Homo sapiens: one gene and its partner. The protein of the gene in region 1 purifies or fractionates together with the protein of each later gene. This does not show direct contact. Each region holds a gene or a part of one and is shown in the gene's direction. Other genes may lie near its edges.

What was found.
Region 2: the proteins of PARPBP (region 1) and APOO purify together in Homo sapiens (affinity purification with mass spectrometry; one large-scale study listed by BioGRID and IntAct). This does not show direct contact.

What each region holds. Positions count from the first base shown.
Region 1 is NC_000012.12:102,126,481-102,130,511, forward strand, and holds part of PARPBP (PCNA-interacting partner), read left to right. Parts: intron 1-666; exon of another isoform or gene 667-819; intron 820-4,031. UniProt on the Homo sapiens protein: Required to suppress inappropriate homologous recombination, thereby playing a central role DNA repair and in the maintenance of genomic stability.
Region 2 is NC_000023.11:23,880,439-23,883,938, reverse strand, and holds part of APOO (MICOS complex subunit MIC26 precursor), read left to right. Parts: intron 1-2,986; coding exon 2,987-3,094; intron 3,095-3,500. UniProt on the Homo sapiens protein: Component of the MICOS complex, a large protein complex of the mitochondrial inner membrane that plays crucial roles in the maintenance of crista junctions, inner membrane architecture, and formation of contact sites to the outer membrane.

The sequences.
Region 1 (4,031 bases):
CTGTTTTAAAGTTGTAACAGATGGGGCCGGGTGCTGTGGCTCACGCCTGTAATCCCATCACTTTGGGAGACTGAGGCCGGCAGATCACATGAGGTCAGGAGTTCGAGTCCAGCCTGGCCAACTTGGTGAAACCTTGTCTCTATTAAAAATTAAAAAATTAGCTGGGCGTAGTGGTAGGCGCCTGTAGTCCCAGCTACTCGGGAGGCTGAGGCAGGATTATCACTTGAACCCAGGAGGCAGAGGTTGCAGTGAGGCACTGCACTCCAGTCTGGCCGACAGAGCGAGACTCTACCTCAAAAATAAATAAATAAAATAAAATTATAACAGTATCAGCTCTTTCTGTATCTTGTTTTTTTCCATCCAACATTATTTTCAAGATCTTTTCAGGTAGTGATAGACAGAAAAGTTAATCTAATTTATTCATTTTATCACTCTCACATGTTCCTTTAATATGACTGCCATATTCTATTTATTGGTGGATCTTTAGACTGAAGTTCTTTTGTGTTATGAATAGTTTTGCCTTGAAATGAAATGTTTGCACTGAGCAAGAGGTTTTTTAGGTTCCTTATTTAAGTAGTTACATGATAGACACATTTTTATCTTACACGTGGCAGTCAGAATTTACATTTATGGGCTAGACACACTGACTCATACCTGTAATTGCAGCACTCTGAGAGTCCATGATGGGCAGATCACTTAAGCCCAGAAGTTCAAGACCAGCCTGGGCAACATGGCGAAACCTCGTCTCTACAAAAAAATACAAAAATTAGCTGGGTGTGGTGGAGTGTGCCTGTAGTCTCAGCTACTTGGGAGACTGAGGTGAGATCACTTGAGTCTGGGAGGTTGAGGCTTGCTGTGAGCCAAGATCACTCCAGTGCACTCTAGCCTGGGCAACAAAACGAGAACCTATCTCAAAAAAAGAAAAAAAAAAAAGAAATTACATTTATGTCATCAATGGAAGAGAGTGCCATTTTTTTATCCCTCTTTCCATATTAGATGTCAGAGTTTATTAGAAAAGATTAAAAAATGGTATTTCATTTTATTTTTTTGGACAGCTACCATGTTTAAAAATTTGTTTAAATGCTTATTTGATCATTTGGTATCTTTCTTTTTCATAGTAGATTCATTTTTAATAATGAAATAAACTAGAAATATTCTACATGTATATGACCTGGAGGTTGGTTCTATATAGCATTGTAAACCACCAGTAGAATAGTGTGCAATAATTAAATAGCTTGGGTACATGTACATTTATTGACATGGAAAAATATTCAAAATATATTGTTAATAAAACAGAGCAGTTTGTATTATGGCTAAGAGTAAATGCTAGGGAGTCAGTTGGCTTGGGTTCACAGCCTAATTCAGCCTTTTGACTGAGTGGCCTTAGACAAATCACTTAATTTTTAAAAAAAATTAGTTTTTTAAATTGACAAAAAATTGTATTTATTTATCATGTACAATATATTTTGAAATATGTATACATTGTGAAATGGCTTAACTGAGCAAATTAATATGCATTACCTCACATTCTTAACATTTTTGTGGTGATAACAATTAAAATGTATTCTCTGAACAGTTTTCAAGGATACAACAGTGTTATTAACTAGCAACACCATGTTGTACAATAGATCTCTTGAAATTATTCCTCCTAACAGAAACTGTATATACTTTGATGAGTATCTCCCCATCCACCCCACCCACTGTGTCCCCACATCCCCTAGTAACCATCATTGTCTTTCTACTTCTATAAGTTCACCTCTTTTGTTTTTTTGATGGAGTCTCACTCTGTCTCCCATGCTGGAGTGCAGTGGTGCAATCTCAGCTCACTGCAAGCTCCCCCTCCCGGGTTCACGCCATTTTTCTGCCTCTGCCTCCCTAGTAGCTGGGACTGCAGGCACCCGCCACCACACCCGGCTAATTTTTTGTATTTTTAGTAAAGACGGGGTTTCACCGTGTTAGCCAGGATGGTCTCGATTTCCTGACCTCGTGATCTGCCCACCTCGGCCTCCCAAAGTGCTGGGATTACAGGCATGAGCCACCGTGCCCGGCCTGTAAGTTCAACTTTTTAACACACCACTTGTAAGTGAGATTATGTGGTGTTTGTCTTTCTATGCCTGTCTTACTTTCCTTAATATAATGTTTTCCAGGTACATCCATGTTGTTACAAATGACAGGATTTCTCTCTTTTATGGGGCTGAATAGCATTCCATTGTGTATATATACCACATTTTCTATCCATTCATCCATTGATGGATACTTAGGTTGATTCCATATCTTGGCTATTGTGAACAATGCAGCAATGGCCATAGGAGTCCTGATCTCTCTTCACTACTGATTTCATTTCCTTTGGATATATACCCAGTATTGGGATTGCAGGATCATATGGTAGTTTTATTTTTTGAGAAACTTTCATACTGTAATGCTTATACTAATTACATTTCCACCAACAGTATACAAAGGATTCCCTTTTCTTCACATTTTTTTTTAACACTTTTATCTTTTCAATAATGGCCATTCTAACAGGTCATAATTTATTTTGGTTTCCATTTGCATTTTTCTGATGATTAGTAATGTTGAGCATTTTTTATATACCTCTTGGCAATTTGTGTGTCTTCTTTTTGGAAATGTCTATTCAGATCCTTTGTCCAATTCTTAAAAAACGATTATTTTTAAAATTCATTTTATTATTTAGAGACAGAGTCTCAATATGTTGCCCAGGCTGTACTTGGACTCCTAGGCTCAAGAATTCTCCTGCCTCAACCTCTGAAGTAATTGAGACTGTGGGCATACGCCACTGCATCCTGCTCTTTTGCCCATTTTTTTTTTAATGGGGTTGTTTTCTTATTGAGTTTCTTATATATTTTGGATATTAACCTTTTATCTGATACATGATTTGGATATATTTTCTCCCATTCCATAGGTTGTCTCTTCACTCTGCTGATTGTTTCCTTGGCTGTGCAGAAAGTTTTTAGTTTGATATAATCCCATTCATGTATTTTTGCTTTTGTTTTCTGTGCTTCTGGGTTTATGTCCAAAAAACCATTCCCCAGACCAATGTCATGGAGTTTTTCCTCTGTTTTTTTCTAGGACTTTTGCAGTTTCAAATGTTAAATTTAAGCCTTTAATACATTTTGATATTCATTCTTCTAGCCAATGAGCCTGGAATGTTTTTCCATTTGTTTGTACCTTCTCTGATTTCTTTGAGCAGTGTTTTGTAGTTTTCATTGTAGAGATCTTTCACCTCCCTGGTTGACTGTATTTCCAGGTATTTTATTCTTTTTATGGCAATTGTGAATGAGGTTGCATTCCTGATTTGCCTCTAGACTTGACTACTGCCCAAAGCAATTTATATATTTAATGCTAATCCTGTCAAACTTCCAGTGACATTCTTTGCAGAGCTAGAAAAAGCTCTTTTAAAATTCCTATGGAACCCAAAAAGACCCCAAATAGCTAAGGCTATCCTAAGCAAAAAGAAGAAAGCAGGTGGTATCATGCTACCTGACTTCAAACTGTATTAAAGGGCTACAGTAACCAAAACAGCATGGTATTGGTAGAAAAACAGACACATAGACCAATGGAACAGAATACAGAGCCCAGAAATAAGACCACACACCAACAACCATCTGATCTTCAACAAAGCTGATGAAAACAAGCAATGGGGAAAGGATTCCCTATTCAATAAATAGTGCTGGGATAACTGGCTAACCATGTGCAGAAGATTGAAACCGGACCTCTTCCTTAAACTACATACAAAAATCAACTCAAGATGAGGGACTTACATATAAAACCCAAAACTGGAAAAACCCTGGAAGACAACCTAGGCAATACCATTCTGGACACAGGCATGGGCAACGATTTCATGATGAAGATGCCAAAAGCAATTGCAACAAAAGCAAAAATTGACAAATGGGATCTAATTAAACTAGAGAGCTTCTACACAGCAAACAAAACTATCAACAGAGTAAACAGACAACCTACAGCATAGGAGAAAATTTTTGCAAACTATACATCTGACAAAGGTCTGATATCTA
Region 2 (3,500 bases), on another chromosome or scaffold:
GCCGGGAGAATTCATGCTTTTGAAACAAGGGGAATTTCCCTTGTCCCTCTTACAGGGCATGTGATGGGAGTGTGGCCCACTTCTTAGGTGCCCCACTGCTCAAAACCCCTAGGGAAAGCAGGCAGATGGGCAGGTCGTGGGGAGTGTGGGCTCCAACCCCATGGCAGCGTCTAGGGGTGGATGTTTACAGCTTCTGCAGCCCCAGTGGGCGTGTGTTACGTGTGCTCTTTTAGTTTTGCTGTCAGTAGGCAGCTTGTGTTCATCAGCTCAGTTAGACCCTCTGCCTTATTGCAAGGACAGAGGGCTTTCTGTATCCTAGGGTTCTTGCCTGAGTATACCAGAAAAACCGGATCACACGTGGGCTTGGAGGATGAGTGCAAGGTTTTATTGAATGGTGGAAGTAGCACTCAGCAGATGGAAACGGAGCCAGAAGGGGTATGGAGTGGGAAGGTGGTTTTCCCCTGGAGTCAGGCCGCTTAGCAGCCAGGCTCTCCTCTGACCGCCCTCAGCCAAACTCCGCGTTGTCCTGCCGTTCTGCTGTTGGTGGCCTGCCGGAGTCTGTCACTGTGTTCTTCTGCTGGTATGTTGTTCCTTGCCTCTGCTTCTCTTGACGTCCAGCCGCTTGTGTGCCTGCCCGCTAGGGTCTCGGGGTTTTTATAGGCACAAGATGGGAGTGTGGTGGGCCAGGGTGGTCTTGGGAAATACGATATTTGGGCACAAAAACAGAAATGCCTGTCCTCACCTAGGTTGGTGGGCACAGGCCCAGGGGTGGAGCCCTAGCCAGGGACCACGCCCTTCTCTACCCAGCATTTCCCTGCCTGCCCCTCCCGTATCACTTTTCTTTTATTTATTTACTTTTTGAGACAGGGTCTCGCTCTGTTGCCCAGGCTGGAGTGCAGTGGCAGTATCTTGGCTCACTGCAATCTCCACCTCCTGGGTTCAAGCGATTCTTGTGCCTCAGCCTCCCTTATTTTATTTTTTAATCTGTCCCAGGCCAAGTGCAGTGGTTCACACCTATAATCCCAGCACTTTGGGAGGCCGCGGTGGGTGGATCGTTTGAATCCAGGAGTTTGAGACCAGCCTGGGCAACATGGCAAAACCCTGTCTCTACAAAAATTACAAAAATGAGCTGGACATGGTGGTGCATGCCTGTAGTCCCAGCTATTTGGGAGACAAGACAGGAGGAGTGCTTGAACCTGGGATGGGAAGGTTGCAGTGCAGCAGAAATCCTGCTGCTGCACTCCAACCTAGGCAACAGTGTGAGACCCTGTGTAAAAAAAAAAAAAAAAGTTTGTCCATTTATTTACATCTATCAAGTTCTTCCTACCAGAATGGAAGCCCTTTCAGGGTGAGGATATGTCTTACTCCATATTCCTATTTCTATGGCTGTGCCTAACACACAAGGCATGCTCAATAATTGTTTATTTCCTGCTCAAATGAGACAAAAGGAAATGGATGGAGGAGAGGTGGAAAATAAATGAGTGATTGATTTCTCTCTAACTATTTAGGCATGATTTAGCATCTTGGAAATCATATTACTGAGATTTGCAGTGCCTGTAATGTGAAAGATGAGGCTATTCTGTAATACAAAACGTAATGCCAGCTAAAATATAACAAAAATATCTGTTGAAACGTATGGCTGCAAATTCCCATATTTCAGAAGCAAATAAAGAGCTGAAAGCCATTAAGAAAAAAAAGGGTGGTTGTTACTTTAACTGGTTTAAAAACAATTGATACATCTTGAAGTATTAAGTGTGCATCTTGAGGTCTTAATTTCAATGCAGTTTTGCTACAGATTTCTTTTGCTTCCACGATACAGATTAGCCAGCTAGTGCTGACATTAGTTCATGTGGTTTGTGCCCATCACAATTATTAGGCAGAACCAGCAGCACCAGGATACAACCTAAGGAGATCAACGTCCCTCCTAGAAAACTGCCACGGCCTTCGCAGGAGGGGTCTGAATTTTTTTTTTTTTTTTTTTTTTTTTTTTTGAGGTGGAGTCTCGCACTGTCACCCAGGCTGGAGTGCGGTGGCACAATCTTGGTTCACTGCAACCTCCACCTCCCAGGTGCAGGTGATTCTCCTGCTTCAGCCTTCTGTGTAGCTGGGATTACAGGTGCCCGCCACCACGCCCAGCTAATTTTTTTTTTTTTTTTGTAATTTTAGTAGAGACGGGATTTCACTATGTTGGCCAGGCTGGTCTCGAATGCCTGACCTGGTGATCCACCCACCCGCCTCTGCCTTCCAAAGTGCTGGGATTACAGGCGTGAGCCACTGCGTCCAGCACATTTTTTATATTCACAATTAAATTAATAAACCATAACTCTCCTCCTCTCAGCCCATCTTTTTTTTTTTTTTTTTTTTTTTTTTTTTTTAGTGGAGCGATTATTTTGTGTGTGTGAAACAGAGTCTCACTCTATTGCCCAGGCTGGAGTGTAGTGGCATGATCATGGCTCACTGAAGCCTCAAACTCAAGAGTTCTCCCACCTCAGTCTCCTGAGTAGCTGGGACTACAGGCACACACCACCATGCCTGGCTGATTTTTTAAAAAAATATATTTTGTAGGCCAGGTGCACTGGCTCACACCTGTAATCTCAGCACTTTGGGAGGCCGAGGCGGGCGAATTACCTGAAGTCGGGAGTTCGAGACCAGCCTGGCCAACATGGCAAATCCCCATCTCTACTAAAAATACAAAAATTAGCCGGGTGTGGTGGCAGACGCCTGTAATCCCAGCTACTTGGGAGGCTGAGGTAGAAGAATCGCTTGAACCTGGGCGTTGGAGGTTGCAGTGAGCTGAGATCACGCCACTACACCGCAGCCTGGGTAACAGAGCAAGACTCCATCTTGAAAACATAAAAATAAATAAAAATAAAATAAAGCACAGTAAGCCTTTCAGGGTGGGGAGTGGCTGAGGTTATGAATATGCTCATGTTCTGCACATTCGGTCTGTAACATAGAGAGGTTTAAGATTGCTTCTGCATTTCAGGTAATTCAGAGGTCCGTGGGGCCAGCCAGCCTGAGCTTGCTCACCTTCAAAGTCTATGCAGCACCAAAAAAGGACTCACCTCCCAAAAATTCCGTGAAGGTTGATGAGGTAACATGTTGTTCATGTTGCGATATATTTTGAGTGTCTGATTTAGTTACTGTAGGATAATTTTTTACAAATTGTATATCAGGAAGATGTGACTGTTTAAAATACATTTATTTATTTATTTATTTATTTATTTATTTATTTATTTTGAGACGGAGTTTCGCTCTTGTTGCCCAGGCTGGAGTGCAATGGTGCGATCTCGGCTCATTGCAACCTCCTCCTCCTGGTTCAAGCCATTCTCCTGCCTCAGCCTCCCAAGTAGCTGGGATTATAGGCATGTGCCACCACGCCTGGCTAATTTTGTATTTTTAGTAGAGACAAGGTTTCACCATGTTGGCCAGGCTAGTCTCGAACTCCCGACCTCAGGTGATCCACCTGCCTCGGCCTCCCAAAGTGCTGGGATTACAAG